Linked DNA regions of Homo sapiens: all the other regions are reported to be linked to region 2. The links are microRNA targets in miRTarBase. Many come from high-throughput screens and were not tested one by one. Region 2 holds a microRNA gene; each other region holds the end of a gene's coding sequence.
The links. Region 2 holds the annotated microRNA hsa-miR-4524a-3p (UGAGACAGGCUUAUGCUGCUAU, at 5,510-5,531, opposite strand). A microRNA usually pairs through its seed, bases 2 to 8, with sites in the 3' UTR of a target mRNA and lowers its output. Matches are read on the target gene's strand: a 7mer-m8 pairs with bases 2 to 8, a 7mer-A1 pairs with bases 2 to 7 and ends in A, and an 8mer does both.

Region 1 (10,941 bases), not on the chromosome of region 2:
GAGTTCCATAGTGTTGCCTTGGGAACTAATGGGAGAAAGAGGGGAGCCAAAAAATGCCCCCACCACGTGCTTCAGACTAATTGTGAGAGGGTATATGCATGTTCCTTTGTGTAAACAAATAAACTTTTAATTTACTATATAGTAATTAGTATTGGGCTTCTAATAAATGTTTAAAGACTGATAAACTGTACTTACTGATTCTGAAATACACTTTTCTCCACATTTTAACATCTCTAAAATTGCATCTTTTTTTTTTTTGAAATGGAGTCTCACTCTGTCACCAGGCTGGAGTGCAGTGGAACGATCTCGGCTCACTGCAACCTCTGCCTCCTGGGTTCAAGCGATTCCCCTACCTCAGCCTCCCAAGTAGCTGGGACTACAGGCGCATGCCACCACACTCAGCTAATTTTTTTTTGTACTTTTAGCAGAGACGGGGTTTCACCATGTTGGCTGGGATGGTCTCGATCTCCTGACCTCATGATCTGCCCGCCTTGGCCTCCCAAAGTCCTGGGATTACAGGCGTGAGCCACCGTGCCTGGCCAGTTGCATCTTTACTATCTCAAAAATTGATGGTGTGTCACAGTTTAATGGACATTTTTTTTTTAGTAGTGTTTCATAAAATAAAGGGGCATATTACAAAAATATAGACTGTAGAAAAATTTGAAAAAAACTATTTTTACAGGGAGGAGTAATTTCATTAATATAAGATGGTATTCTTAGCAACAGTCATCATGGAAACCAGGAAAATAAGCCTTAAATTTTATGACTTTGTCCCTTCCTATTGATTTCAGGTTATGTTTGTATGGATAATCATAGGCTACACTGCCACACTGTCCAACATGATAGCCACTCGCCAATTGTGGTTATTTACATTAATTAAAATTAAATAGGCCAGGTGCAGTGGCATGCACCTATAGTCCCAGCTACTTGGGAGGCTGAGGTGGGAGGATCGCTTGAGCCCAGGAGGTAGAGGCTGCAGCAAGTCATGATTATACCACTACATCCCAGCCTGGGTGACAGAGTGAAACCCTGTCTCAAAAAAAAAAAAAAGAAAAAAATTAAATAAAATGTAAAATTCAGTTCCTCAGTCTTACTAGCCACATTTCAAGTGCCCAGTAGCCACATATGACTAGTGGCTACCATATTGGACACTGCATTATTGCAGTGCACATGTTATAGAAGATTTCCATCATCATAGAAAGTTCAGTTGGACAGCACTGGTCATAGGAGTTCAGAACTCCTTGCCCACAATTCTATAATACAAAAGGCTCTGGCAGAAGTTTGCCACAAGCTCATTTGGTAGCAAAACTGAGCTCAGCTCAGAAGAGGCTATATGGTCTTTATACTGTTCAGAGTGAATATTCATACATTTCACTGTAAAAATACACTGCAGAAATATTAATAGGATTAAAAATGTGGGGCGCTGCCCCACACACTGCTGAGGCTGTTACATTAGGTACCGCCTCAAGGATTAGATATATCTTATTACAAAAACATATGGCTTCAAGGATTTCATTTCATTTTATTTTTTTGAGAGAGGGGCTTACTCTGTCACCCAGGCTGGAGTGCAGTGGCATAATCACAGCTCACTGCATTCTCGACCTCCCAGGCTCAAGTGATCCTCCCACCTTTGTTTTCTGAGAGGCTAGTACTACAAGTGTGCACCACCATCCTAAGCTAATTTTTGTTTATTTTCTGTAGAGACAGAGTCCCACTATTTTTCCCAGGCTGGCCTCAAGAATTTCAAATAAGGGACTGTGGACCTGTATTTGAAGAAAGGAACTTGATTACAGTTTTTCTTAGTTTAATGGGACAAAAAAGTAGATACTCTAACATCTATTAGTTATGTAATCTTGCACAAGCTATTTTAACATTTCTGTGCCTCAGTTTCCCATTTGTAAAATGAAGACATAAATAATAATATTTCCTTTATCTACTTTACAAGGAAATATGTTAAGATAATACATCAAAATAATAATTAAGAAAATATTGTATAAACTATACTATACAGATTGTTATTTGGAGGAAAATAGATTTGATTTGACATAGCATAGCTCACTTAGTTTCTCTTGTGGTATTGATTTTTAGATCGGGGCTGCTAGTCGCATACCCGGAGTAACACCTGCCGCCATCATCAATCTGCTGAGATTTGTGAAGACCACTCAACGAAGACAGTCGGCTATGAATGAATCATCCAAGACTGATCAATACTTATGTGATGCAGACAGACTTCAAGAGAGAGAGTTATAGCTTTCAATTCATAAAAGATTTTTAAAGAGCATATAAATAATTTGATCAATACAACAGTATAGATAAAAGAATTATTTAGCACATGTTAAAATAGCTTTATTAGGTTACTATGGGTTTGCCATTAATTTCTGAGTGGGACAGAAATTATAATTGTGCTTTTTCGTGTATATGAAAAAACTAGTCGTAAACAATTTGTACTCTTTCTTTAAGGAGCTGTAATACAAATAACTTTGTGCAGTGTTCATCAAAGAGAGAGACAGTGAACCTAAAACTGAACCTGGAATAAAACTCAACATGCAGATTTGCCTACTCATAGGGACTTTGCCTATTAAGTCTACCAAATTAAAAGTCTTATCATTCAGCGTGTTTTGAGAGTTAATAATCTTTTGCTTGGTTATACTAGGCTAGGAAGCAATATCAAAGCCCTTAAATTCTCAAGACTAAAGACTTGAGATTATATAAAATTATCCAGAATCATTCAGCTAATACTATTGGAATATAGTATGTAGGGTGAAAGTTGACAGAAATCTGTACTTCTTCAGGAAATCCTCACTGGTAATTGTTTTGAACATTAATGAAAGCCCTATAAAATAGAAAGATTGGAAATCACCATTGTTTCCTATTATCCACAGTGTGGATGGATACTTATTTGGTGACCTAGTTATGGGAGAATTGAGTAACGTTAGTTATTTTATATCATACCATAAAAATATTTTCTTAAGAAATTGTCATGGCCATCATTTCTTAATAATGAAGACAGGTCCATAGTAACTGGTGAGTGGTGTTTCCCTGTTTTTAAGTCAGAATGACAGAAAAAACAGAATAGTGGTAGTACCCCTCTTCCTCTCCAGTACTTCAATGGTATGTCTTCACAGGGGTTAGAGTGGGATAATCAGCTGGGCCTTTTGACTCAGATACCTCAGATACCTCAACCATTCTAAATAGACTAAGGGATGAATACAGCCAAATGGGCCAGACAGCCCTGCTTGTCTCTGGAATTCCAACCCAGATCTCTGGTGTCAGCCTAGGGAGAAGCTCCCGTGTCACCTTCGGGCCAAAGCAGGTACTCAGGAGAGTTCTAAGGGCCCCAAAGTCACTTTGGCTACAGATGTGTATGTTAAGCCTGATTATGGGTGTGAGGCAACCAAGTATCTTGTTACTATAATTGCATATGGCCACTTGGAGGTAGCTTAGTTTTCTTGGGTTTATTTTATCTAATTTTAGTCTTTCCAGAAAGCAGTAAGATTAGTAGCAAGTAAAAAGTATTTGTAGTGCTGGATAATTTAGGAATGATGAATATTTTTTAATACTTGATTCAGTGATTTCAAAAGGTCGTAACTTTTAGTCATAGCTACTCCTGGGCAAAATTCTTCTTACAGAGACAATATTAATTACAATACCACATTGTGTATATATTTTGAAAAGAGGCTGGTTGCAGCAGCTCACGCCTGTAATCCCAGCACTTTGGGAGGCTGAGGCGGGTGGATAACCTGAAGTCAGGAGTTCAAGACCAGCCTGGCCAACATGGCAAAACCCCATCTCCACTAAAAATACCAAAATTAGCCAGGCGTGGTGGAGCAAGCCTGTAGTCCCAGCTACTCAGGAGGCTGAGGCAGGAGAATCGCTTGAACCCAGGAGGCAGAGGTTGCAGTGAGCTGAGATTGTGCCACTGCACTCCAGCCTGGGCGACAGAGTGAGACTGTTTCAAAAAAAAGAAAAAGAAAAGAAGGTATTTTGTGTTTTTGTGCTACCCGTTCAGCAAAATAATGAAATTCATTGTTTCTAAACTTTTTTTTCTGATTAAATACAAGAGTAAAAAAAGTGAATGGAGTGCCTTTTGAATAGAATATAACAAAAATTTATCTTAAAGAAACGGGAAGTAACCTGGCACAGTGGCTCACGCCTGTAATCCCAGCACTTTGGGAGGCTGAGGCAGGTGGATCACGAGGTCAGGAGATCGAGACCATCCTGCCCAACATGGTGAAACCCCATCTCTACTAAAAATACAAAAATTAGCTAGGTGTGTTGGCACGTGCCTGTAGTCCCAACTACTCAGGAGGCTGAGGCAAGAGAATCACTTGAACTCAGGAGGCAGAGGTTGCAGTGAGCCAAGATCATGCCACTGCACTCCAGCCTGGCAACAGAGTGAGACTCTGTCTCAAAAAAAAAAAAAGAAACAGGAAGTTCAAATATTTTGGGAGGTTCTTGACAGCTACAATTTGGGGCTAGTGACACTATACACATATAAAGAAACTTTAAAGTTTCTTAGTAATGAAGGTTTGTAATGCTATTCCATTACAATAGTAACTGTCTCACTGAAAAATGTTTCATGGAAAATACATATTTTAGATTCTATGATTTGCTTTAGGATGTGAACTTCTTTATTTTTTAGAGACAGGGTCTCACTCTGTTGCCCAGGCTGTAGTGCAGTGGTACAATCATAGCTCACTGCAGCCTTGATCTCCTGGGCTCAAGTGATCCTTATGCCTCAGCCTCCCAAGTGGCTGGGACTACAGGCACATGCCACCATGCCTGGCTAAGTTTTAAAAAAATTTTTTGTAGGAATGAAGTCTCACTATGTTGCCCAGGCTGGTCTTGAACTTCTGGCCTCAAATGATCCTCTTGCCTTGGCCTCCCAAAGTGCTCAGATTACAGGCATGAGCCACCACACGTGGCCTGAAACCTCTTTAAATCCACAATGTTTGTATGTTAACTTAAACAAAATTACATCACTTAATATGTCAAAACAGCCTACCCTCTGGTGCTGCTATGCAGAAGTACTACAGAATATGATGCCCTAGGAAGAAATCAGCTAAAAATGTAACCTTACTCAATGTAGTTACTTCATAGAAATCCCATCACTGACAATAATCAGCTGCCAACGAAAGCTGGCCATACTTGTGACTTCCTCTATTCACCACAGACCAGACTGCCTACCAGTTGAAAAAGCCAGGTATTTTTTCAATTCAATTCAACAGGAACACCAAAAAATAAGAAATGACTAAGAAACACTAAGCATTTGTAAAATTACTGGGGGAGGAAGGATGAAGATACGAACCTATGCTAAATTAAACGATTATGGCCTTGAAAATGAAGTTCCTTTATAGCCAAGAGCTTAAATTTTGTTACTGATGGTTTTAAAAGTATTTTGTCATTTTTTAGTTTCAACCTAGATTGGAATAGCCATGGCTTTTCTACTTCAGAAATTTCAACTCCTAGAAGAATGCCCTGTCCAGAAGAAGTGGTCAGGAGTATCAGGAAAGCCACCAGCAGAGACTAGGGGTTTATTCTGATCTGGAAGAGCCACTTAACACTGGAATGCACACAGTGAAAATTAATTGTTCCTCTTACACTCCCTCTCCACAATACTTCTATTATTACACTTACTTCGTTCTACCTTAATGTTTTTATTTAGAGACAAGATCTCACTCTGCCACCCTGGCTGGAGTGCAGTGGCATGATTACAGCTCACTGCAGCCTCAACCTCCCTGGCTCTAGCTATTCTCCCATCTCAGCCCTCCAAGTAGCTGGGACTACAGGTGTGCACCACCATGCACGGCTAATTTTTAAGTTTTTGTAGATATGGGGTCTTACTATGTTGCCCAGGCTGGTCTCAAAGTCCTGGGCTCAATTAATCCTCCCTCTTCAGCCTCCTGTGTAGGTGATAGTACAGGCATGAGCCACCATGTGCCTGGCCCTACCTTAATGTTAATATCTGTCTACCTTAAGAAGATATAAGCCTTGTAAATATAAGCAATATCACAGTTGTAGATACTCGTGCTTTTTAAATAGATTAATGAATACTACTAAAGGCAAGAAATGGTATTACTAAAACTCAAGTGAATAATTAAATGAGATCAAAATATTTGTGACAGGCCAGGCACGGTGGCTTACGCCTGTAATCCCAGCACTTTGGGAGGCCAGGCGGATCACTTGAGCTCAGCAGTTCAAGACCAGCCTGGGCAACATGGCGAAACTCCGTCTTTACCAAAAATACAAAAATAAGCCAAGCATGGTGGCACGTACCTGTTGTTCCAGCAACTTGGGGGCTGAGGCAGGAGAATCACTTGAGCCGGGGAGTTTGAGGCTGCAGTGAGTTGATAGCATGCCACCACACTCCAGCCTGGGCAACAGAGTGAGACCCTGCCTGAAAAAAAGCCCAGGTGTGGTGGCTCACATCTGTAATCCCAGCATTTTGGGATTACAAATCTGCCAGCGCAAGCAGATCACTTGAGGATAGGAGTTTGAGACCAGCCTGACCAACATGTTGAAACCCCATCTCTTATTAAAATACAAAAATTAGCTGGGCGTGGTGGCATGCGCCTGTAATCCGAGCTACTCAGGTGGCTGAGGCACAAGAATCGCTTGAACCTGGGAGATGGAAGTTGCAATGAGCTGAGATCAAGCCACTGCACTCCAGCCTGGGCAACAGAGCAAGACTGTCTCAAAAAAAAAAAATTTGTACAGTCATGTTCAAAGTAGCATTAATTCACAATAGCCAAAAGCTGGAAGTAGCCCAAGTATCCACCAATGAATGAAAGGATAAACAAAATGTGGCATATACATACAATGGAATATTATACAGCCTTAAAAAGGAAGGAAATTCATATACATGCTACAGCATGGATAAACCTTGAAAAAGTTATGCTAACTGAAATCAGCCAGTCACAAAAAGACAAATACTGTATGATTCCCTTTATAAGAGTTACCTGGAGCACTCAAATTCATAGAGACAGTAAAATGATGGTTACCAGGGGATGGGGGAGGGAGAAACAGGAAACTATTCTTTAGTGAGTACAGAATTTCAGTTTTTTTGTTTTGTTTTTGTTTTTGTTTTTGAGATGGAGCCTCACACTGTCACCCAGGCTGGAGTGCAATGGTGTGATCTTGGTTCACTGCAACCTCTGCCTCCTAGGTTCAAATGATTCTTCTGCCTCAGTCTCCTGAGTCTGGGATTACAGGCGCCTGCCATCATGCCCAGCTAATTTTTGTATTTTTAATAGAGACAGGGTTTCACAGGTTGGCCAAGCTAGTCTCGAACTCCTGACCTCATGATCCGCCCACCTCGACCTCCCAAAGTGCTGGGATTACAGGGGTGAGCCACCATGCCCAGTCCAGAATTTCAAGTTTTGCAAGATGAAAAGAGTTCTGGAGATGGTTGATGGTGATGGTTGCACAACAATTTGAATATTTTAAATGCCAATGAACTGTTCATTTACAAATGGTTACGATGGAATTTTTCTTTTTCTTTTTTTTTTCTTGAGACGGAGTCTCGCTCTGTCACTCAGGCTAGAGTGCAGTGGCACTATCTCGGCTCACTGCAACCTCCTCCTGCTGGGTTAAAGTGATTCTCTTGCCTCAGCCTCCCGAGCAGCTGAGACTACAGGCGCGTGCCACCATGCTCAGCTAATTTTTTCTATTTTTAGTGGAGACAGGGTTTCACCATGTTAGCCAGATGGTCTCGATCTCCTGACCTCGTGATCCACCTCCCTCAGCCTCTCAAAGTGCTGGGATTACAGGCATGAGCCACCGTGCACAGCCAAGATGGAAATTTTTATGTTCTTTGTTTGATATGGTTTGGCTGTGTCCCCACCCAAATCTCAACTTGAACTGTATCTCTCAGAATTCCCACATGTTGTGGGAGGGACCCACAGGGAGGTAATTGAATCACAAGGGCCGGTTTTTACCATGCTTTCTTGTGATAGTGAATAAGTCTCACAAGATCTGATGGGTTTATCAGGGGTTTCCGATTTTGCTTCTTCCTCATTTTCTCTTGCCACTCCCATGTAAGAAGTGCCTTTCGCCTCCCGCCAAGATTCTGAGGCTTCCTCAGCCATGTGGAACTTTGGGGACGAAAAGAGGTTTAATTGGACTTAAAGTTCCAATTAAAGTTTCAGGTATGTCTTTATCAGCAGCATGAAAATGAACTAATACAGTGTTTTATCACTTTTTTTTTTTTTTTTTTTTTTTGAGATGGAGTTTCGCTCTTGTTGCCCAGGCTGGAGTGCAATGGCGCAACATCAGGTCACTGCAAACTCTGCCTCCCGGGTTCAAGCGATTCTCTTGCCTCAGCCTCCTGAGTAGCTGGGATTACAGGCTTGTGCCACCACACCCGGCTAATTTTTGTATTTTTAGTAGAGACAGAGTTTCACCATGTTGGCCAGGCTAGTCTTGAACTCCTGACCTCAGGTGATCCACCCACCTTGGCTTCCCAAAGTGGGTGGATGACCTCTGGGATTACAGGCGTGCGCCACCGCGCTCGGTCTATATTCACCAATTTTAAGATGCACATCTTTCCATATTTTAGTATCTCTAAGTTGGAGTATGTCTTACAATTAATGGCATCTGACAGTTATAACTGGCAGCATTTGTGACTGAAAAACATCTTAGATGCAATGAAATACAGTGTGTGTGTTTGTATTGTGCTGCAATATAAAATGTATTTCAGGCCAGGTATGGTGGTTCACACCTGTAATCCCAGCACTTTGGAAGGCCAAAGTGGGAGGATCACTTGAGCCCAGGAGTTCAAGGCTGCAGTGAGCTCTGATTATACCACTGTACTCCAGCCTAGGCAACAGAGCAAGACCCAGTCTCTAAAAAATAAATGAAAATGTTTCTTATTGTGGATCACAGTCAAAAGTTTGAAAAAACACAATCTGTTTGAACAGCACTACTTTCTGACAGGAAAACCCCAACAGGTTAGGATCTGTGTATTCCTCAGAGTAAGAATTTTTCTAAAAAGTTTTTAAAAACTTAAAGTCTTACTGATCTCTTCCTATGCTCCAATTTTATAGATATAACTTAGCCTTGCGAGGTGATGTAATTAAAGTCTAACTTCAAGTTGCTGTTGAGCATAGATCTCAGGTCTTCTGACTTCACAACACCTTTCTGCCACTTTCAGTGGATTTTTCCCTCCTAGGGACCAGAGGTCCTCTACTGGATTAAAAGTTTCTCCATCCCGGCAGGGTGCGGTGGCTCACGCCTGTAATCCCAACACTTTGGGAGGCCAAGGCGGGCGGATCACGAGGTCAGGAAATAGAGACCATCCTGGCTAACATGGTGAAACCCCGTGTCTACTAAAAATACGAAAAATTAGCCGGGTGTGGTGGTGCGCGCCTGTAGTCCCAGCTACTCGGGAGGCTGAGGCAGGAGAATGGCGTGAAGCCAGGAGGCGGAGCTTGCAATGAGCCGAGATCGCGCCACTGCACTCTAGCCTGGGCGACAAAGCGAGACTCTGTCTCAAAAAAAAAAAAAAAAAAAAAAAATTCTCCATCCCTTTTGAACAATCTGGAAGTCTGTTTCTCTTAACCTTCAGTTCCCATTCCAATCCTTTGTAACCTATTTCAGGTTAAGCATTTATGGAGGTGCCATGCTTAATTAGCCATTATGGCACTCACTCTATTTCAAAGGTTATCCCAGAATTTGGAGGCTGTAGGGGAATTCAGAGTGTGAATTTCACTTGAACAGCACCCTCTGCAGACTTAAAATATTCCTCCTATATCTGAAGACAATAATAATTTCTTAGAATTTGCTAGGCTAAACAACTATTTTTTAGTCCAGTGGCTTGTAATTAAGTCATTTTTAGTCTTTAATTATGTTGGTTGCTTTTAGAATTCTCTTTTAGAGTTGGTCTACATCCTTTTAAAACATGGGCAATCCAAATTTATAACAGTAAATTAAGATACATAAAAAAAAACACTGGCTAAATTTAAAAGGAAACACTTCTAGAATATACTGTATTTTGACACAAGACCAGACTGTGCTATGTGTATGTGGTGTTTCAAGTAATTTAAGAAAACTGTTGGAATTTTCTGTATTTCCAGTTTCACAAGAAACAACCTCAAGGAGGGCAGTTTAACTGAAAATTCAGAGGTATTATAGCTCTGAAGAAAAATACTGATGAGCAGTTATACAAAATGAGAAATTGAGTTCTAAGAAATGCATCCCTAACTTCAACATAAAGATAGCTATGAGAAAACATTCTTTGTACCCAACCATAAATGAATAAAAATCACCTCATTTCTCATCAGATGTTTACTGGGTTGCTAGTTATATATAGAATCCTGCAAGAGGCTCAACAGGGAAGTCCAAAGAGTCAATCAAGAAGGTATGATAATGGCTAAAGATGGGGACTGTAGGTCAATGCTCCACGAGGTTCTTCTTTTGTTGCACCAATATAGCTGCACTGTTATACCCATATGGTTACAATCCAGGCCTCAGAAAATGTTGCAGATGCCCTCACCAGAAGGCTGAGAACCAGTTCCTCAGTTTGCATGCCTCCAGACAGCACTAGAAGTCAAACTCAAATTGCTTACATGGTAACTTGGTTTATCCCAACACCAACTAGGATATTCCCTCAATCACATGATTGTACTGAAAATATAACCAAGTTTTATTTATGTTTTTCATTTGGTATTAGCCATCTGGTATTTAACCTCTGAAAACCACACAATCTTCTATACGCTTTTTTCACTGGAATAAATGAAACTGCTTACTTTTGACTTAAGTCTATTTCGCTTTATACGAGCAATAACCCATATTTCGGACAATGTCTCAAAAGAGATTGTGTTAAAGGAAAATCCAGGCTGCATATTGTGCTTTTATCTGTTTTGAGTTAGCTTTAAATGTAAAGTTTGACAAAAGCAAAACTACATGAACTCTTTTAGGGAAACCATGACTGGCTAAAATAGA
Region 2 (10,941 bases):
ATGTGTTTTGATTTTAAAAATACAGTGTTTCTCAGTGTCATGTCTGATTTTCTGCTGTGATCTTTTATTTGTGATAATTTTTTCAAATCACAGTGAGAACACCTTAATCACCATGTTAGTTCACAAGCCTAAGAAGTGGTTCTGCATTATCATCTTTCCTTAGAAAGAACAAAGTCAAATTTCTTCTTTTGTTCATCTATTCACTTGCTGCCGTATATACAAGGGGCATTCATAATATGATAATGCAGATTCTGTCTTCTGCCATTTTTTGAAGGAAAGTTCCTCTCACTGGACTCTCACTCCTTACTCCACAATGGGAAAATGGTTTCTGCTCTCTAAGCCTAGAGATGAAACTTATTGTTTTGGAAGATTCTGGCCTATTAAGTTCTAGAAGTTCTGTCACAGTCTATGGAATTGATGCACAGATTTGAAATCCTGGAACTTGGCTGAGAAAATCTTGTCTATAATGTTTTCCAACCCAAAGCATCACTATGGAGCCTGCAGCCATGAGGAAATTAAACCTGCTCAGCTTCTCCACTAAAAGCTAAAAGGCAAGGGCTGAGGTATGTTTCTATCACTGATGCTGAATGCTCTCTTGTCTGAGAAATTTCCAGCTCTATACAAACTGGGATAAGTTGTGAGTATACGGTAAGCCAGGGGCAACTATTTCATGAGGCACATAGCAAAAAATGTGTCCATCTAGATGTGCATTTGTTCCAGTTTGGAATGATTTCTGTGTAATAAGGGTCAACACAAGGAGTGGCAAAAGCCACAAAAGGAAGCTTGATTCCAGCATGCTGTTTACTTAGGACTGAAGGACAAGCTGCTGAAAAAGCATCTATGAGGGGCACTCACTAGGGCATCTGCAGCATCACTCAGGCTGGCAGGAGCAGACCCATGCGCAACCACGCTGGACAATAACCCTGACATTTCTTGGCTATCACCTCCAAGGTAGACTTCGTTCAGAGCTAAAACTACTGGCAAACACTAAGAATGAATGTGAATTCTTTGTTCACCTTTGCTAGACAGATACAAGAGTGCTGACTGAAAAGAAACCAACCAAGTGTCAGTAAGACTCTCTTCTACAGACATCTGATCTAGCACCTGAGATTACACTGGACAATGGCAGTAAGTCTGTTGACTGAACAAAAAATAGTCTCCATGGAAAGGATAAATGGAAAGACCTTTTGTGCACCAGATCCTCATGGCTGCCTCAAAGCCAGTTTTTCCGAGTAAGGTGAGCCTAATGTTCTTTCTGTAGCCTCTGTACTTCCACTGGATTGTGCTGATGGTGGTAAGAGATATAGTTATAGACACTGTTTGCTGAATACAAAGAAATATAGCCCAGAGAAGTCAAACCCAAGTGCTGTCCACTGAGAAGGAACAACAGCTACCTGCTGGCCAAAAGAGTCCCAGACTAATTTCTTGTAGAAGTCAGTGGGTCGTATAGGTTGGTGCAAAAGTAATTGCGGTTTTGACATTACTTTAAATAGCAAAAAAAACGCAATTGCTCTTGCACCAACCTAATATTAAATATATCATTTCTTATAGATGATCTTTGGTTGGGTTCTTCTCATGGATTCAAGATTCCCATTCCAAGAGTTGAGAGCTGTTTTCCAGACAGACATTCAATCACCAGTTGAGGATATCAGTTAAAGGAGGCCTGAAGTGTAGGACTCAGGGCACTCTGGTGTCTCTAGAATTTCAGCAAACATTTCCAGCAAAGTTTTCCATGATTTTGGACAAGCTCTTTACTTTTATACTAACAAGTAACCTGGCATAAGTATAAAACATCTTTAGTATCTGAAACTATTAGCAGCTAAGGTTAAGAGAGACCTTCTTGAAGACTGTAGAGATGGGTTGTAATGTCAACTGTTAGGAAGCCAATTTTCTAGTGTTGGCAGGAAGCCCTGTATTCTGGAGACATAAACTCAACAGGACGTTTCAGACGTCAGGTCTTCTGTAAGATTCTCCATAAATTCTGTTCAATGGGTAGCACCTGATTTCTTTAGAAATATTATTGATTCAGTAACAGTGTTACACTTCCCTCTCTTTTCTATGGTGTAATTTTGAAGTATTAATTTTCCCTACTGTCTTAAGGCAGACATCTGTATTTAAGATTACATTAGAAGTTTAAAAAATAACACTATTTCTCTATTTGTATGTATTATATACTTACAAAAAAGAAGTAAAATGACCAAAGGCCACTGTTTTTTCTCCTTTTGCGAAAAATAAATGATATCATATATATGAAGAAGACAAGAGAAGCTGCATAACCAGGAGTAACTATAACCTGAGCATAAAAGAAATAATAACATAGTCAAAAAATCAAATATTACTGAGGGAAAAATTAGATTACAACTTTTAAAAAACAAGTAACCTGGCATAAGTATAAAACATCTTTGGTATCTGAAACTATTAGTATTTATCATACATGCACTTTGCATGTTTTTTGTTTTGGTTTATTACAAAATATGAATTAAAACATCTTAACTACTTAAAATAACAATGTTAAAATTTATTATTAATTACTTTATGAAATTTGGTTTATGTACTGTGTTACTTACCAAAGCAAACACAATTTGGCTTGTAATAAGAAGGTACTGCATGTTTTCTATGTAGAAAATTAAATACATTAAAAGGAGAATTAAAATGAAGAAGCTGACGTCCACTAGTGCCTGCCCACACCAGTAAGCAGAAGTGTAGAGGCCTGAAATCCATAGCTGGGACTTAGCATTTTTCTGATTAAAAAAAAAAAGAAAGAAAGAAATGTATATAGATTCAATTAAAATGCAAATCTAAAATAAACACAAACACATTGGAAGAATTTTTAAGATAAATATAATCTAATCTTCTAATATTAAAAAAAATTATGCATATACTGCTTAGTAACATGAGGCTTATAGAGCCAGTTCCATGGTTTACAAGGTGTCTATCAAAAATAAAATGTATACTGTGATAGGCCTGACTCATAACACAACTTTAGCTCATGAATAATGAAAAGTGGACCTCATAATGTTCAAGGCATTAAACTCTATAAAAATAAGTATTGGCCAGCATGGTGGCTCACGCCTGTAATCCCAGCACTTTGGGAGGCCAAGGCGGGTGGATCACAAGGTCAGGGGATTGAGGCCATCCTGGCTAACATGGTGAAAGCCCATTTTGACTAAAAACACAAAAAGTAGTTGGGCATGGTGGTGCAAGCCTGTAATCCCATCTACTCAGGAGGCTGAGGCAGAAGAACTGCTTGAACCCGGGAGGCGGAGTTTGCAGTGAACCGATTTTGCACCATTGCACTCCAGCCTGGGCAACAGAGTGAGACTCCATCTCAAAAAAAAAAAAAAAAAAGTATTATTTTGTGACCTGGAGGACATAATACATTTACCTTTACCTAAACATCTTGGAGAGTTTCTGGCTCAGGATGGTGAACGTTGATAGATTTAACTGCTTTGTCTGAATAATGGGCATAATCGAATACAAATATAACATAAAATTGCAATTTCCAGAGTGGAAAAGGAATTCAAGTCTTAAATTTGGCCTTTGATTTCAACATCAATGATTTCCTTCTTGTGGCTGGGAAATAATGTGGTCAAAAGATTTATAATATTTCCCTTTGAAGGTTTAGACTAATTGGAGTCTCTGAAAAATCACTGTACTTTTCAGGTGACTTTGGAATAAAAAGCATTTTGAGTTTTTAGAAGTAAATTATCTGACTTGCCAAGAATAAGGTTTAGCTACAATATCTAAATTAAACATACATTCAAATGTTTTTGTCAGAAGAAAACATTTTGAACACATAGCATTCAAAATACAGATATTGAAATTCCTGAAATTTCTTCTTTTCCCTGCTTTTTCTTACCTTGTAATCACTGATGCTGCCCATGGTGATATAAGGAGAAATGCTACATAGAACCAAAAATAAGAAAAAGGAACCATCCGGCAACCCAGTCCAGAGTCCTATGTGGCTCTGAAAATATAAAGGGTAGCTTAAACTAGTGAATATTTGTTAAATGAAACAAATAATTATAGCCACAAAAATGCACTTTTTGAAATGTTGAAAAATCAAAGTAAAGGTGTAGCTCATTACCATCTAGGCACGAAGGTGGGAGGGAAAGTGACTCTGATCTTCAACTCAAAGAACAAAGAGAAGTCAAAAGTCATTTAGGACCTACTTCTGGGGATATTTCCAAAAGAATTGAAAGCAAGCTCTCGAAGAGATACCCTCACATTCATATTCATACCAACAATACTCACAAGTGGAAGCAACCCAAAAGTCCAAATTAATGGATTAACAAAATGTGTATGTATATACAAACAATGGATACTATTCAACCTTAAAAAGGATCACTTGAGGTCAGGAGTCTGAACCAGCCTGACCAACATGGTGAAACCCCATCTCTACTAAAAATACAAAATCAGCCAGGTGTGGTGGTAAATGTCTGTAATCCCAGCAACTTGGGAGGCTGAGGCAGGAGAATCGCTTGAATCTGGGAGGCAGAGGTTGCAGTGAGCAGAGATCGCCCCATTGCACTGCAGCCTGAGCAACAAGAACAAAACTCGGTCTCAAAAAAAAAAAAAAAAAAAAAAGAAGGAAATCCTGTCACATGCTACAACATAGACGAACCTGGAAAATATGCTAAGTGAAATAAACCAGTTACAAAAAGACAAATATTCCACTTATATAAGGTTTCTAAACTAGTAATATTCATAGAAACATAATAGGATGGTTATTTCCAGGGGATGGGGGAGGGGGAAAGCTAATTGGCATCGAGTTTCAATTCCGCAAGACGGCAAAGTTCTGGAGATGCATTTCACAACAATGTGAATATACTTAATACTACTCAACTGTACACTTGCAAACAGCTAAAATGGTCAATTTTATATCATGTATTATTACCACAACAAAAAAACAATAATTCAGAAGTTAGGACCTCTGATGAACATATAATTCAGGCCTGAGTAGCACGTCTTTCTGAGCAAACCCAGAGATGGAAACCTCAGTAGCTGGGTGGATGTGTTCTGAAGCACAGAACCAAGAAGAAAACTTGTTGCTGCTTGTCTTAACTTCAGGGAAAGGAACTTTAAATCACTACCCCCAAATCAGCATCCACTTGAGGCTAGGCCAAGTGGACACTCTAGCAGCATCTAGGACCACCTCATGGATATAATTACAGGATAACAGCATGAGCCTGTCTCAAAATAATTCCACAATTATTTAACTTTATTTAAGACTTTGAGGGCTATGTCTATAAATTCTGTTTTTCATCATAGGAATGAGGGAGGAAAGGTGTGTGCCATGGGGAAGTGGGAGTGGGGAACAGGTTTCTAATAGAGTAGCTATGGGCTTCAGTCCATTTTGATCCTGAGCAAACACAATGGCATTAGGAAGCTAATAATTCAGAAGTTAGGACCTTTGATGAACACATAATTCAGGCCTGAGCAGCATGTCTTTCTGAGCAAACCCAGAGATGGAAACCTCAGTAGCTGGGTGGATGTGTTCTTTTGAAGGATAGCAGCATAAGCCTGTCTCAAAATAATTCTGCAGTGAGACAGGTTCATGCTGCTATCGTTCCAAAGAGGAAGGGTAATCACTGTCTCTTTCTGCTACTCCTCTGGTTCCACTTTCTGGAGAATTCCCTTCAGACACCCCTTCCCTCGAGTCATCCTGTGCAGCAGACCTGTTTACGTGATCAGTCGGTCATACTCAACTCACGGAGGTATGTGTCTGTCACGAACATCTCAAGTACTGTATATTTCATCCCCATTGTTCCCATGGCTTACAGAAAACCTGTGCTTGCATATACTCCCAGCACCACTGATTCAGTGAAGCCAAAACTGAGCTTCACACTTTTGTCACAAAATGGACTTCCCTTTGGATGGCTTCATTTCTAATCCTGCTTCTTGATGTTTCAGACTTCTGGTGTGAAACAGTTGGAGTCAGCTTTGAGACACCCCTGTTGGTATCAGGCAGGGTCTAACCAGAAAACCATGACTACGTTAAGTTCTTAGAGTGCAATTCCTTATGACATGGTTAGGTGGGTGATGAGCATCCCACAAAGATGGTGAAGTGAGAAGCAAGCTATTGTTGCTTCTGGGCTTCAGGAACAGCAGAAGGAGGTGATGTGACTGGAGCCCAATGTAGGGGGTCCTCTGCTCTTCTGTCTCCCACCACTGCTTTCTAGTGTCCAAACTGTCTGAAGCCAGACTATAGCCAACTGACACAGAATCCAATGCAGCCTGTGTGTATTAGGCTCCCTCACAACATAGAGCAACTATGAGTAGGTGAATAAATAAATCAACAGATAGCCCCAGAACTGGCAGATTCTCCTTCATATTAGTCTGTCTACTACACATTTAGTCAATGGAGGGTCCACTAACTAATTATAATAGATTTATATGTAACCAGGGTTACAAGTTCTCCTGATTTCCAAGTCAGTGTTTTCTTTTTTCTGTTTCTCTTTCTCATACACTTCCACAATCAAGTATGTACAACTTTTCAAAACATTGCCTAGAAGACTGACAAAATATTGAAAAGTATTCCCTCACGATAATTATCTGATAACTTGGCAGGAAAAAAAAATCCTGTTTTGTTTGCTATAACCCATTGAAAATATTAGGATAAAATAATAATTTTCAGGCTTAACAATCACTTATGGATATTTAAAAGCTAAAGAGAGAAAACATAGGCTATTTGTCCAATTCTTAATTGTTTAGACTCAGTAAATCCAATACTTACAAGAGGAAATGGGCTTGACTCAATTCGAATATGTTGTGTGTGATTAAACATTTGAAGTAGCCCATTGCTGATAATATTCATAAGAATTGGAAAACAGTGCAATCTCTTGGTATTACACACAACTGAAAATCTATAATCCTTAAAACAGAAACAAATAAATAATGTTAATGCTAAATTCTTAAAGAACAAAGGCAAGGTTTATGTATAAAAGATCCTAACAGTGCCACATGCTTGTTGTGTGTCCATCTTCAAGTGAACTAAACTTTCTGAGCTTTACCTTCCTCATCTATGAAAAGGAAATACTAAATGGGTTGTTATAGGGCTTAAATGACACTCTATTCATGTACATTAAGCTCTAGCACAGAGTCAGCATACAATCAATATGAATTTTTATTTGTATTACTAATTTTAGATAATTTTGTCTCCATTTTGCTGATGGGGAAATTTCATTTAGTAGAGTTTAAAAGTCTCCCTGACAAGGAGATGCTGTCAGTTTATGATGAAGAAGCAAAGGAAGATTGGGCATGGTGGCTCACACCTGTAATTCTAGCACTTTGGGAGGCCAAGGCGGGCAGATCACTTGAGGTTAGGAGTTTGAGACTAGCCTGGCCAACATAGCAAAACCCTATGTTTACTAAAAAATACAAAAATTAGCCAGGTGTGGTGGCACACATCTGTAATCCCAGCTACTTGGAAGGCTGAGGCAGAAGAATCACTTAAACTCAGAAGGCAGAGGTTGTAGTGAGCTGCGATCACACCACTGCACTCCAGCCTGGGTGACAGAGCGAGACTCTGTCTCAAAAAAAAAAAAAAAAGCAGCAGCAGCAGCAAAGGAATGCTGGCCTTCTGGATAGGAGATAAGCATGGAGTTCATTAAATATTCATCCTTACCCTGCCAAAGAAGCATTTCCCCACTTCCTAAAGCAATCTTTATATTTATGTACTTCATGTTTAGGAAAATGTTCATTAATCTATTAGAAGGTTTATTGTTTAAATCTTACCACTAGTTCATGTAGTAAATATGTGAGGTATGTAACGTAGTAGCTGACAAAGTAATTTCCCAAAACTGGCACAAAGCGATTACATTTTTTATAGCATATTTAGTTTATGTAGAACGGAATTCAGTAATACAACTTCAAAGGCTTTTCTTTTTTAAAAATTTACTTTGTAGCATGAAATAAAGAGGGAGCTTCACTTAATTAGGCCCCTTGCTTTTATTAGAATGCAAATAAGACTGAAGAGTTCTTAACATTAAGATGTATTTTTAAACCGAGCACGGTAGCTTATGCCTGTAATCCCAGCATTTTGGGAGGCCAAGGCGGGAGGATCACCCAAGGTCAGGAGTTCCAGACCAGCCTGGCCAACATGATGAAACCCACTCTCTACCAAATATTCAAAAATTAGCTGGGCATGGTGGTGCCTGCTTGTAATTCCAGCTACTCTGGAGGCTGAGGCAGGAGTCACTGGAACATGGGAGGCAGAGGTGTAGTGAACCAAGATACTGCCACTGAGCTCCAGCCTGGGTAACACAGCAAGACTCTGCCTCAAAAAAAGTATTTTCAATAGTCTTGTTCTCTAATGAATCTCTATGGCTTGACTCTTTTACCCAAATCGACATATGCTAAGGTAGCAGACTGAGAATACTTTTTTCTCAGTTATTTCGTGTAGATATTATAGTATTTAATGTATTTTCTCAATATATAAAAACAAACTTTATTCAGGTAGTTAGCTACTGAATAAAATTCCTTAAATCCATAATTATATTGGTTGATAATTATAAGCTATAATATTTTTATTGAGTTTAAACAGTACAATTAAATTTAGATCCTTTCAAATGTAAAAGTTATCTAATTCAAAACAAAACTAAGATAGAAAATGTTTTACAAAAACTTAGGTAAACTTCACAGTTTATTAAATAACAACCCAGAATGTTTTTCTGAGTCAAGTTTCTGTATACTAGCTTTAATTTCTGCAGTTTTAAAACAGCTAAAATGTAGTACTTTTTGTTTTTTTCATAAAAGCAAAAAGGCAAACATACCTTTTGTTTACCAGAAACTATGATAGCTCCATTGTATGAGAGGCCATCAGTACCATTTCTGTTTTCAAAGTCATCTACTTCCAAAAGTATATTTTGATGCTTCAGTGATTTTATAAAATCTTCAATATTTGATTCTAATATGAAGTTAATAAGAGAAGGCCATAGAAAAGTAAGAAAATACATATCAAACTTTTAAAATAAGTCATATACATAATTAAAGTTAATATTTATGGAATACTATGTATAAATGTCTTTCTTTGGGTATCACAATAATAATATTGACCCACACTGTACCATCTTCTATTTAGCAAATCTTATACCACAATGAATTAGCTTTATAAATCTGTTTAATGCAAATTAACATGTAATCATAAAAATAAGCTAATTCTATTGTATGACTTTTGGTAAACAACAACAACAACAACATTTGAATTGAATAATCTGTGGAGATACAATAATTTTATGAGGAGTACTTCAGATTGTCCAGCCTAAAACAGCCAATGATAACACTCTTCTCTCTTCCTTGTTCTTCCAAATAATGGACAAGTAAATATATATGTGTCTGTATAACACATACATATGTTTTACTTTATTCTAAACATTTACGTACATATTCCATACATGTATGTTGTATAAATATAATCTTTCTTAGGAAATGAAAAAGGATGCCATCATCAGATCAAACTTTTAGATATGACCCTGAAGAAGAAAGCAGATGAGAACGTCTGACCGTGAAATACGAGCTGAGAAAAATTCACAGCCTAGAGCACACCAGAGCAAGCAGCTGAAGGTAAAACCAATTTCCAGGATACCTGAACTCAGAGTGGATGAATGCAAGGGGGTAAGGTATGCTCTGAAGCTATAGTCAGGGTCGTGACGTATACCTGGGAAAAGATGACCCGTCAGGCCCCTCCCCACGTTCCACACAGAACACACAGTAGCCGCAGTTGTCCCCAGGGTAACAGTCCCATATTTACTTACTGAGAGACCTTATCTGAGGAGCACAGCTGGGCAAACCTGAAGTAACTGCAGACAATAATTTGAGCAAGATGGAATGAATAAGAGGAAAAGAAGGACTTTTTTTTTTTTTGCCTTTGAAATGGGAGTTTATAGTGGGCTCTGGGATTGGAAAAATAAGGCCAAACCTTAGATGAATTAGGATCCCCCAACCAAGTGATACAGGAACATGCACATAGAAAATAAGCTTTCCATGCACCTTGAGCAGCCACACACCCCACTCCACCTCCACAGTCACTTGAGGTGCAATGCCATATGGTGACCCACATTCACCTAGGCAGACAGGGATGCTCACATTAAAAGATAAACGTGTTACCAATAATTGGCAGATTTTGAGAAAAGAGGAACAAAATGGCACAGAAGCTTCAAACTTAAACCATAAAATACCTAAGTACAGAGACAAAATAAATATATTAACACAAGCCCACTGCCCTCAAGAGTGACCAAAGAGGAAAAGAGAGACCTAATTTACTTATCTTATGAGCTCATAGGTAAAGAAACCTTTCTAGATCTCAGAAATTAAACATACAATTAGCATTTAAGGTAGTGAGGTGAATAAAATTTACTTTCCAAAACCCAAATGGAAAACAAGAATGAGAAACGGAAAGGGAAAGACTGTCTTTGTTTAAAGAGCATACACCGCAGGCCTGAATCGCAAATCCATGGGAAAATCAAATGAATGAGGAACTCAGCAAGGGAAGACTCTTACTGTGATTTTTTTTTTGTTTCTTTGTTTGTTTGTTTGTTTTAACATCTGAGGTACTAACATAAAAGTTCCTTCTTCAAAGTTAATTAAGCGGTTAGGAAAAAAACAAAAAAACAAAAAAACAATTACTGGCCGGGCGCAGTGGCTCACACCTATAATCCCAGCACTTTGGGAGGCCAAGGAGGGCAGATCACTTGAGGCCAGGAGTTCAACACAGCCTGGCCAACATGGCAAAACCCCATCTCTACTAAAAATACAAAAAAAAAAAAAAAATTAGTCAGACGTGATGGCACGTGCCTGTAATCCCAGCTACTCGGGAGGCTGAGGCAGGAGAATCGCTTGAACGTGGGAGGTGGAGGTTGCATTGAACCAAGATCACACCACTGCACTCCAGCCTGGGTGACAGAGCAAGACTCTGTCTCAAAACAAAACAAAAACAAAACC
Region 3 (10,941 bases), not on the chromosome of region 2:
AAACAGGAACTCAGATCAGAGAATGAAGTTGATTTATAAGGGGGAAGATAAAGTTTACTAGATAAAAGAGTGCTCAGGACTCCTTTTCAGCCCACTGGATACTGTGTGCAAAGCTGCAGTATTTGTGTGGGAAGATCCTGCTAATGTAAATTTGCCTTGGGTCAGTTTGGCTCTGGGGCCTAGCAGATGATCTTGAAAAGCCCAAGAGGTATGTTTGGTTGTGCCCTGGCTTAATTGGAGATGAATATAGCATTTCATGGGCTGCAGGATACACGGGGAACACTGTTGTTCCTTTATGATTTTTCTCAAAGTCTACTTCTTGCTAGCTCCTGGGACACTGTGACTCAAGGTAGACCTTCCTGTCTCTGACTTTGGAGGCCAGTGTCCCAGATAAGAGTTGTTGCTTAGGCCCTGGGTGCATGGACATGAAACATGAGCAATGAAGCATTTGGACTCCAGGGTCCAGAAGATGAAAATGAGAAAATATCAGAGAGCTGCCTCAGAAGAAGAGAGATGGGTAACCCTTTTCTGCTCTCCTTCTATCCTGAAGATAATAATGTGGTAACCTGCTTGGAATATGAGGGCAGGCAGTTTCCTCACTGTTTTTATAAGGGCTAGGAAGGCTAGACATTTTCTTACTTTGGAAAACTGTTTTTCAGGAGTCACTGACTTACACACATACTGGGGTGAGATGTATGTGCGAATTAAATCCAGTGTAAGGTTGCAAGAGAGAAAAGTGCAACTGTGGCAAACTACAGAGCACATCCCTTATCTAAAGGGGAATCCCACTACTTGGATCCAGCTGTTTGTAACCATATGGAAATATTTAATGTTGCAAGATCTTCTACATTTTCAAGAGAATTCAGAAATCTGGATTTTTTTTAATGAAGTTGTGTTAACCATAGTCAATGAATTTGAATAAAGAGCAAAATCACAACCAAAGCAAAGAGGACAAACACAAATCCCATAGGTTCTCAGTTTGTGACCTGATGTTGAACCAGATCCATGCATGAAGGGGGTATTACTTTTCTATCATGGCCATAACAAATTGCCACACATTTAGTAGCTTATTATCACAGTTTCCATAGCTCAGAAGTTCAGTAGGCTCAATTTTGTCTCTGCTTAGAGTCTCACAATGCCAAAATTAAGATATTGGCAGGGCTGTGTTTCTTTCTGGAGTCTCTGGGAGAGAATCTGCTTGATCATGCACAAAAGTGGCAGAATTCAGGTCTATGCAGTTAAAGGACTTAGGTCCCATTTCCTTGCTGGCTGTAAGCTGAAGGTCATTCCTAGCCTCTAGGACCACTTACATTCTTTGGCTCATGGCCCCCTTCTATTTTCAAAACTAGCAATGATGAGTTGAGTTCTTCTCATGCCACATCTCTCTGATACTCTCTGTCTCCTCTGCCTTCCTCTTCTGCTTTTAGGGACACAGGATTACATTGGACCCATAGAGTAATCCAGGATTCTCTCCTTATTTTGAAATCCATAACTTTAATTCCATCTGCAGAGTCTAGTTTGCCATGTAACTTAATGTACATAGACATAAGACCAGGCCATGAAGATTATGGCAAGGGAGATGGTATCAAAATCCTGTTTCCCACAAAGGTTTCTTTTTCTCTAGAGAAATTGATTATTTTCTCTGATCCAGTACCAGCTAGCCTCAATCTGATACCTGAATGTAAGTATGTTTCTCAACTGTGTCACCTCAGCCTGGTGCTAGGTGCTCTAGACCCCAGGGAGAGGAAGGAAAGAATCAGCTCCCAGACCTTTACCTGTCTTGTACTCAGTACCCAGTGCCCAGCTGAGAAGAGCCCCTGCTTTTGGGTAACCCAGTGGCTTTCTGCTTCGAGTTGCAGGAGGTTTGCTGCAGTTTGAGGCTGATAAAACAGCAAAGGAGGAATCTCTCTTCCCCGTGCCACCCAGCAAGGAGACCAGTGCTGAGTCCCAAGTGAGTGAGAACATCTTTCAGACCCAGCCACTTAACCCTATCCTCGAGGACGACTGCAGCTCGACTAGTGGCTTCCCCACACAGGAGTCCTTTACCATGGCCTCCTGCACCTCAGAGAGCCACTCCCACTGGGTCCACAGCCCCATCGAATGCACAGAGCTGGACCTGCAAAAGTTTTCCAGCTCTGCCTCCTATACTGGAGCTGAGACCTTGGGGGGAAACACAGTCGAAAGCACTGGAGACAGGCTGGAGCTCAATGTGCCCTTTGAAGTTCCCAGCCCTTAACTCTAATGAGGTGAGCTGGAAAGGTGGATCAGAAAAAAACAAAAAAAGCAAAACAGAAATTAAGGACTAACCTCAAGGAATTCTCTTTTGGAATAGTATTATTCACTAGGAGTGGAGGAACAGCAGCAAGCTAGGAACACTTTGGGTGGAGGGGCAACAGTGGTGATGCTAAACTTTTAAGCCAGACAGATATCACACTTCTGGGTCTACAATTGTCAGGGAACTGGCAAGGTTGTCATGATACCAGTCTCTCCATTCTGGTCTTTCGTAAGCTCTCTCAGGGCCCCACTATCTAATGGTCATATTCAGGTATCTCCCTTTATGTGTGCAAGCAGCATAGCACAGTAGAAAAAGATATACAAGCCTTGTCATCTGGAAACCCTACATTTCAAATCAACCTTCATTCCCTAATAACTATACAAACCTTGTGTGTATGTCACTTCATTTTACATTTTACAGAGGCAGGAACTGAGACACAGAGAGGGAAAGTTAGTTTCTCAAAGTCACAGGGCAAATTAGTGGGCTAGAACTGTGCAAGAACCCAGGTTTGGGGGCTACATTTTAGAGTTGGTTCAACTCCACCATTGCAACCATTTGATAGCCAATGTTACTTTCTCAAAGCTTATGTAGCATGAGGTAGGAGAGTAGGTAGATTCCCAGTTTTCAACTAACCAAATATCTTGCAGTGCCCACTTCCGTATTTCTTCAGTTAATACATTTTCAGTTCTCCCAATGACTTCCCTGCTCCCTGCATCCAACCTAAGAAAACGTGAACAAATGTATATTTGAAAGTCATAACTGATATCAAATTTGAAAGTTATAACTGATGTCAAATCAATCAACTTAGGTACCTTCAAGGTTATCTAGTCCAGTTCTTCTTCCAAGGTTTGGGTCCATTTTATAATATCCCCACTAAGAGTTTGTGTAGTCCTTGCTCACATACTTTAGGTGGCAGAGGGCTGACTACTTCTCAATGTATATTACAGTATACACAATTGTGACTGGTGGGTTTGAGCTCAATGTAAGAAAGAGCTTTCCCTGTAGTACCCGCCTATCCATCCTGGCTCTGTTCCTCGTGCCAGACAGACCTCATCAGTTTCCTCTGCTTTAAGATAGCCCTGCAGAGGCTTGAAGACAACACCACCTCTCTGGAGAATACCACTTTAGGTTCTTCTAAAGTATGTGGAGCTTAGAACTAAACCTATCTTCAGGATAAATGGTTTCAACAATGTAGAATAGGGTAGAATTGTCATATCCCTATCTAGGTAATGTCTTTCTGCTATTACATCCTCAACCATTGGCTTAACCTATGATATTTGGAGGGGTAGAGAAAGAAGGGTGCTAGTGAGATTTCCCCACATGTTTCTAACTTGGTTTGCTCTCTCCTTAGGTCTCTTGGGCCCCTGGCAGCCTTGCCCAGTTGTTCTCTCTGGACTCTGTTCCTATACCACAACAGCAGCAGGGGCCTGAAATGTGATGTCCACAAGAGCTAATACCCTACAGATGGGGCATATCCTATCCCATCCCACCAGAGGATTGATTCTCCATTTCACAAGGACTGATCTGGAGCATTTCTTGCTTCCCTTTTGTAGTCTGGGGAGCCAGATTCCACATTCATGGGACTACCAGACATGTTCCTAGCTCAACTTGATTATAGAGAAGAGGAGAGAGGACAGTGAATGGGGTAGGGTTTTCATGTCTGCATTTTTGGTCAGGTAAGCCTCTCAAAATTGTGTTGGCACATCTACCTAGCACTTTAGGGACAAAATCAAACCCTTCTCCCCTTTTAGCTCCTCCACACTGTCTCCCTCCTCAACACACACACACACACATACACACACATATACATAGACACACAAACACACACACACACATTAATATCTATCTTGGGGGAGGCCTCGTGCCATAATTCCCAAGTTCATGTCTCAGACTGCTGCATTGCAGCATGAGGCAGGGCAAACACTTTCCCTCTAGATCCCTGGGGCCTCACCCTGTATTTGAGGTTCTCACCACCCTCAGCAGGGAGAAGGGCTGAAGTTCGCCATTTTGGAACCTTACAGAACATTTCTGAGCCAAAGTAATCTTCCTTCTGGGGCCTGAGTTCCCCAAACTACCCCACAGCAGTCCCTCAAAGACAGCCCTCAATCCATGTAGGGACATCTGAGTATGCCTCTTTCTATTGAAATGTCAATTCAATCCCAGCTTTCTCACCACCGTTCCCCTTTGATTCTTTCTCAATTGTCTTTTTGCCTTTAGCTCCCACCTATACATCTCATGCTCAGAGAAAAACAAGTTCCTTAGAGGTTGTATTCTTTATTCTCCAAGAATCTGTCTGAAACTTGTACAGCTAGTTCCTGTCCCACAACTATTAAGTGGTTTATTAAGTACATTAGGCAGAATGTGCACTTCATCACCAGGTTCTAGCTCTGGCAAAGGAGTGCTGTCTACAGCAAGATTTTTGCTTTTAGAATTTTATTAACTACATCTTTTGGGTTCATCCATCTACAAACACTGATTAAGGGCCCCTGGGGCAACCAATTGATCAGATTACTAAAAGGACTTGGGAAAAAGCAAAAAGGTCCCATTGTACTGGACTGAGGATTAGAAGCAATTGAAATACAAGCCTGTACCAAGCAAGCAGCCTGGCCCCACACAGGTATTAGCAAATATGTGGTAACCAAGGTTTTAGGCCTTGGCCTTTAGGTTTCCTGTTTTTTTTTTGTTTTTGTTTTTGTTTTTGTTTTTCTGCAACAGGTTATTCTTATCTCACTGGCTTTCACTGATCATGTTTAGACCTTCTGGTAGAAGAAATAATATCCAGACAGGGGATGATTTGGCTTCAGCAGGCTGCAGGTGTTCAAAGGTTGCCATGTGGCTGGCAGTGGTTCAAGCCCACATTTGACACTGCTGCTCTAGAGGAAAGATAATGATGGTAACACAGTAATAATAATAATAATAACAAAAATATGATAAAGTGAAAGAGTAAGACTTCTTCAGTGTGCTTGCTCATGGCATGAATGCTATGTGGACAGCCCAAGCCATACCCAGAATCACCTTAATTCCAACTTTTTGAGGTTCAGCAATTGGAGGTGGCAATTGGCTTTGCATTTTAAAGTATTTCGGGTAAAGGTGAAGTGAAGGATTTTCGTCTTTATAATTTCTGTTTGGCCATGGCAAATACCATAGTTGAGTATTTGCTTCAGGAGAGTTCTTTTTACAGTTTTACTTTTCAATGCTGAGGCATATTTCTTTGAGCACTGTGCTTTTATGTGTCTTTCTACAAAGGGGTTATTGGTCAGTGGAAGAACAAAGTACACTTGATAAAAACATTTTCAACATACATTGAGCCTAAACAGCAGTTAAGTTGTCTCTAAATGAACTAGCAAAAAAAAAAAATGTAGTTTTTGTTTGTAAGGAAGGGGAGGTATTTCCTGAGAATGAATTTTTTTTTTTTTGGATTACTGTTTTTCTCTCCATATACCTTGACTTGGATTTTGACAGGAGGGAGCCTGGGAAAATAATTTTTTCCTCCAAGATTCTCAGATCCAGGTTAGGAAAGGATTCAGCACTACAGCATACCCCTCTACAACATACAGCCCTGTCACATTGAGATCATAATCCCTCCTGTCCCACTCCTCTCTACCAACCCCACCCTACTAGCTAGGTCTTCAGTGTTTTACATTGAATATTGGTACATTTTAATTATTTTTTCTCATAAATGGGTTATTTATAGAAATTTTGTTAACTCTTGAGCCATATGCATGTGTAGATACTGGCAGGGCTATGTTTGTTTATGATGCTCTGCAAACATTTCATATTGGCCAATAAACAGAAATATATCCAAAAACCTTGTTTATTCCTCTACTTTCAGAGAACCTGGTGAATCATTTTGCTCATGTGTCTTTTCTTAGTGAGCACAGCAAAAAAATGTGTTTCTGATCATTGGACATGGCATCAGTAGTGATGGGATTCACTGACTTGTCACACAGGAGATCTGGGTTATAGTTCAAGCTCTCTTTCTTTTTCTAAAATTGTTTATGCCATTTATATTCTCCTCTGAGATAAGGATCTACTAGAAATTGTTGTGTTCTAAACTAATACTTATCAAACAGGGTTCCATGGTCCTAAGGGAACCGTGCACTGCACATCTTCTGAGGTCTGCAAAATCTTTAGGAATTTCAGTGTGTGTGTGTGTTTTCATTTTGATCATAATGTCTTAAAATACAAGCATATTCTAGCTAGACCTGTTAAGAGTACTGCCTTGCCATTTCAAGGTCTGTATTTGTGTTGATAATCTTACCAGGTTAAAGAGACCACCTAAAGAGAAACTATTTAATTTTGAATGCTATACTTTACTATAATTTAATTTAAGAGATAGGAAAATCAAGTTTCCTTCCATCTTTAATATTCTGTAATCTTTACAACAATACATGTTGGCAAGGATGTGGAGAAATGAGAAGCCTCATGTATTGCTGGTAGAATTATAAAATGGTATAGCCTCTTTTCAAAACAGTCTGACAGTTTCTCTAAAAGCTAAACTTGAGTATGATCCAGTAATATCACTCCTAGATATATACTCAATATAATTAAAAACATATGTACACACAATACTTGTATACAAATATAGAAACATTATTTATAATATCCGAAAAGTGGAAACAACCCAAATGTCCATCAACTGATGAACAGATAAAAAGTTGTGGTATATACATATAATAGAATACTATTCAGTAATAAACAATATTGAACTTCTGACACATAATACATTGTAGATGAACCTTAAATCATGTCAAGTAAAATAAGTCAGATACAAGAGACCACATATTGTATGATTCCATCTATATAAAATATCCATAAAAAGCATGCTAATCAAGACAGAATGTAGATTAATGGTTGCCTTGGAATGGGCATGAGAAAAACAATTAAATGTTAATAGGCATGATGGATCTTATTTAAAGGATAAAGATGTTCTAAGATTTAGTTATGCTGATGTCTTCCCCACTCAATAAAGTTAATAAAAATCATTGACTTGTATACATGAAATTATGAATGAATTTTATAATATTTAGAATATTCCTCAATAAAGCTGTTTTAAAAATATTCTATGATTACTGATCTCTGATCTCTGAGTAGACTGCTATTGGTTTACTAATTTACTTTCTTAAAAATGTTCATTACTAGGGCTGATTCCATAACCAATCTCTCTCTCTCTCTCACACACACACACACACACACACACACACACACTCACAACTTAATTGCTCAGTTCAGAGCAAAAGAAAGAGACAGAACTTGAGTCCTTTTCCGTTCTCTTCTTTTTAGTCTCTCTAGACCCTATGTAGCCTAGAGAAAAGAGGGAGAGAAAACATCTAGGCAGAACTTAGAGGAGGACGATTTAGGAGGTATCACTCATACCAAAGGAGAAAGGACGGAGGAAACCACTAAGGCTTAGGGGTGTGCATAGGAAAAGATATATTGGGAAATAACTATCACAGGCTGTAGAAGGGCTTATTGAGGGAACCACTACAGAATGGGGGAGAAGTGACTGGAATTACCAGGAGGTAAGAGGCCAGAACTTGTGTATTTATCATGCCTCTATTTGAGAAAAGGCATTTTTTAAATCCTAACTGGGCCTTGCATTCTCACTTGATAAAATTATGAATGGTGGTACAGTGGGGGAAACAGAATCCTCTGATTTATGGATGATGATAAAGGCATAGGAAGGGTTAGCATTTAGGCAACACTTCTCTGTTTTGGAGTTGATTTGTGTGTGCCTGTGTCAGTCAAAGGGCAGTGAGCCCCCACTGTATACCCCAGAAGGACATGGGGAACCAGATCTCTGGGAATAGATGGATCAAAGCAGCAAACAAGTCATCAAACTGTCAGACAAGATTCTTAGGTGATTGTTAATAACCTTTTCATTAGGGACTAAAATCACTTGCATATTTCTGGGCTGGTATGATGCTACTGCATTTTATGCTCACAGTGTGATTGGCAAGTTTCTATGTACCCAGCAGTTAGGCTTTTAAGTCCTCAGAAATTGTGTACACATGAGTGTTAGGGGTTCACCTGCTGCCTGTCCAGATAAAATGGATCCCCACTGAGGGCAGCTGTGCAGTCACATGGTTATCTTCTACAAAGCCTTTCTTCCTTGTGGTTTCTAGTGAGAGCAAATTACCTTCCTTAAGACCTCCTTTCTAAGGAGTAGTGCAGTGAAAGAGAAGGTGGATGAAAAACTAATATTTAGTGATTATTGCTGGTGTGCTTTTTTACTTCCATACTTTGTCTTATTTAATACTCATGATATTCCTAGGTGGTAGGCATTTTTTACAATCTTTATTTAACAAAAGAAGAAACTAAAGTTCACAAAGGTTTAATAATTTTTCTGTGAATATACAGCAGCAAGTGATATGCTGAATTTCAGCCCAAGACTGTGACTCTGAGGCCCAGCACTGTCCACTACACCACAGATGCCTCCTTAAGACAGGCCTCAAAAAAGAGGATGTTTATCCCCTTGAGTCCCTCATAGTGTTCAGCTTGGAAAACTACATCAGACAGTCTCCCTAGGAGTTTCCAAAATCACATACTAGTGTCAAAATATCATCAGTTATTATAAAATCAGTTATTATAAAATCAGTTATATAAAATCAGTTATTGCACTTATAAAAATGCAAAATGCTCAAGAAAGTCTCAGCAATAGAATCAAACAAGTAGAAAAAAGAAATTCAGAGCTCCAAGACAAGGTCTTTGAATTAACCCAATCCAACAAAGACAAAAAATATATAAGAAAATATGAACAAAGCCTCTAAGAAGTCTGGGATTATGTGAAATGACTAAATCTAAGAATAATTGGCATTTCTGAGGAAGAAGAGAAATCTAAAAGTTTGAAAAGCTTATTTGGAGGAATAATTGAGGAAAACTTCACCAGCCTTGCTAGAGACCTAGACATCCAAATACAAGAAGCACAAATAACACCTGGGAAATTCATCACCAAAAGATCATCAACTAGACACACTGTCATCAGGTAATCTAAAGTTAAGAAGAAGGTAAGAATCTTAAGAGCTGTGAGACAAAAACACCAGGTAACCTATAAAGGAAAAGCTATCGGATTAACAGTATATTTCTCAGCAGAAACCCTACTAGCTAAAAAGGATTAAGGCCCTATCTTCAGTCTCCTAAAGCAAAACAATTATCTGCCAATAATTTTGTATCCTGTGAAAATAAGATTCATAAATGAAGGACAGATACAGACTTTTTCAGACAAACAAATGCTGAGAGAATTTGCCACTACCAAGCCAGCACTACAAGAACTGCTAAAAACAGCTGTAAATATTGAAGCAAATCCTGGAAACACATCAAAGCATAACTTTTTTAAAGCATGAATTTAACAGGACCTATGAAACAAAAATACAATTTAAAAAACCAAAACAAACAAAAAACCAAGGTATAGAGGCAACAAATAGCCTGATGAATAGAATGGTACCTCATATCTCAGTACTAACATTAAATGTAAATAGCTTAAATGCTCTACTTAAAAGGTACAGAATTGCAGAGTGGATAAGAATTCACTAACCAACTATCTGCTGCCAAAAGCAAGCAGGAGTAGCTATTCTTATATCATACGAAACAAACTTTAAAGCAAAAGCAGTTAAAAAGACAAAGAGGAACATTATAAAATGATAAAAGCCCTCATCAAATAGGAAAATATCACAATTCTAAACATATATGCAAATAACACTGGAGATCCCAAATTTATAAAACAATTACTAATAGACGTAAGAAATGAGATAGACAACAACACAGTAAGAGTGGGGGACTTTAGTACTCCACTGACAGCACTAGACAGGTCATCAAGAGAGTAAGTCAACAAAGAAACAATGGATTTAAACTACATCTTAGAACAAATGGAATTAACAAATATATACAGAACATTTCATCCAACAACCACAGAATACATATTCTATTAAACAACGCATGGAACTTTCTCCAAGATAAACCATATAATAGGCCACAAAGTGAGCCTCAATAAATTTAAGAAAATTGAAATTATATCAAGCATTCTCTAAGACCACAGTAAAATAAATCTGGAAATCAACTCCAAAATGAACCTTCAAAACCATGCAAATACGTGGAAATTAAATAACCTGTTCCTGCGTGAGCATTGGGTCAAGAATAAAATTAAGATGGAAATTAGAAAATTCTTCTAAATTAACTACAATAGTGACACAACCTATCAAAACCTCCGGGATATGGCAAAGGTGGTGCTAAGAAGAAAGTTTATAGTCCTACAGGCTTACATCAAAAAGTCTGAGAGAGCACAAACAGAAAATCTAAGGCCAGACCTCAAAGAACTACAGAACAAGAACAAACCAAATCCAAACCCAACAGAAGAAAAAAGTAACCAAGATAAGATCAGAACTAAATAAAATTAAATAAACAAGCAAAAAACACAATATACAAGAAAATTGAAACAAAAAGCTGGTTTTTTTGAGAAGATAAAATTGATAGACCATTAGCAAGGATATCCAAGAAATGAAGAAAGAAAATCCAAATAAGCTCAATAAGATATAAAATGGGAGATAATACAACTGACATCCCAGAAATACAAAATATCATTCAAGGCTACTATGAACACCTTTATGCATATATAAATAGAAAACCTAGAAGAGATAGATAAATACCTGGAAAGATACAACTCTCCTAGC

Region 1: miRTarBase lists MTO1 as a target of hsa-miR-4524a-3p. Seed matches in the 3' UTR shown: 8mer at 4,404-4,411, 8mer at 4,558-4,565, 8mer at 6,690-6,697 and 8mer at 9,485-9,492.
Region 3: the mRNA of EDA2R is a reported target of hsa-miR-4524a-3p. Seed matches in the 3' UTR shown: 7mer-m8 at 4,037-4,043 and 7mer-A1 at 4,158-4,164.

The regions. Positions count from the first base shown.
Region 1 is chr6:73,498,486-73,509,426 of GRCh38, forward strand. It overlaps MTO1 (mitochondrial tRNA translation optimization 1), which reads left to right. Exons shown (of 12, transcript NM_012123.4): 12 at 2,089-10,751. The coding sequence ends at 2,250. Among named protein-coding and RNA genes, the nearest start is that of EEF1A1, 17 kb to the right of the region's middle. RefSeq lists a silencer at 5,068-5,268.
Region 2 is chr17:69,094,061-69,105,001 of GRCh38, forward strand. MIR4524A (microRNA 4524a) reads right to left here and starts at 5,572; the gene lies at 5,504-5,572. It overlaps ABCA6 (ATP binding cassette subfamily A member 6), which reads right to left. Exons shown (of 39, transcript NM_080284.3): 21 at 8,775-8,908; 22 at 6,737-6,874; 23 at 3,860-3,967; 24 at 2,568-2,741; 25 at 2,180-2,293. MIR4524B (microRNA 4524b) reads left to right here and starts at 5,482; the gene lies at 5,482-5,596. It also overlaps the pseudogene SEC24AP1. RefSeq lists an enhancer at 9,588-9,882.
Region 3 is chrX:66,590,779-66,601,719 of GRCh38, reverse strand. EDA2R (ectodysplasin A2 receptor) reads left to right here. Exons shown (of 7, transcript NM_021783.5): 6 at 1,860-2,246; 7 at 3,627-6,083. The coding sequence ends at 2,236. Among named protein-coding and RNA genes, the nearest start is that of EDA2R, 43 kb to the left of the region's middle. RefSeq lists a silencer at 1-52.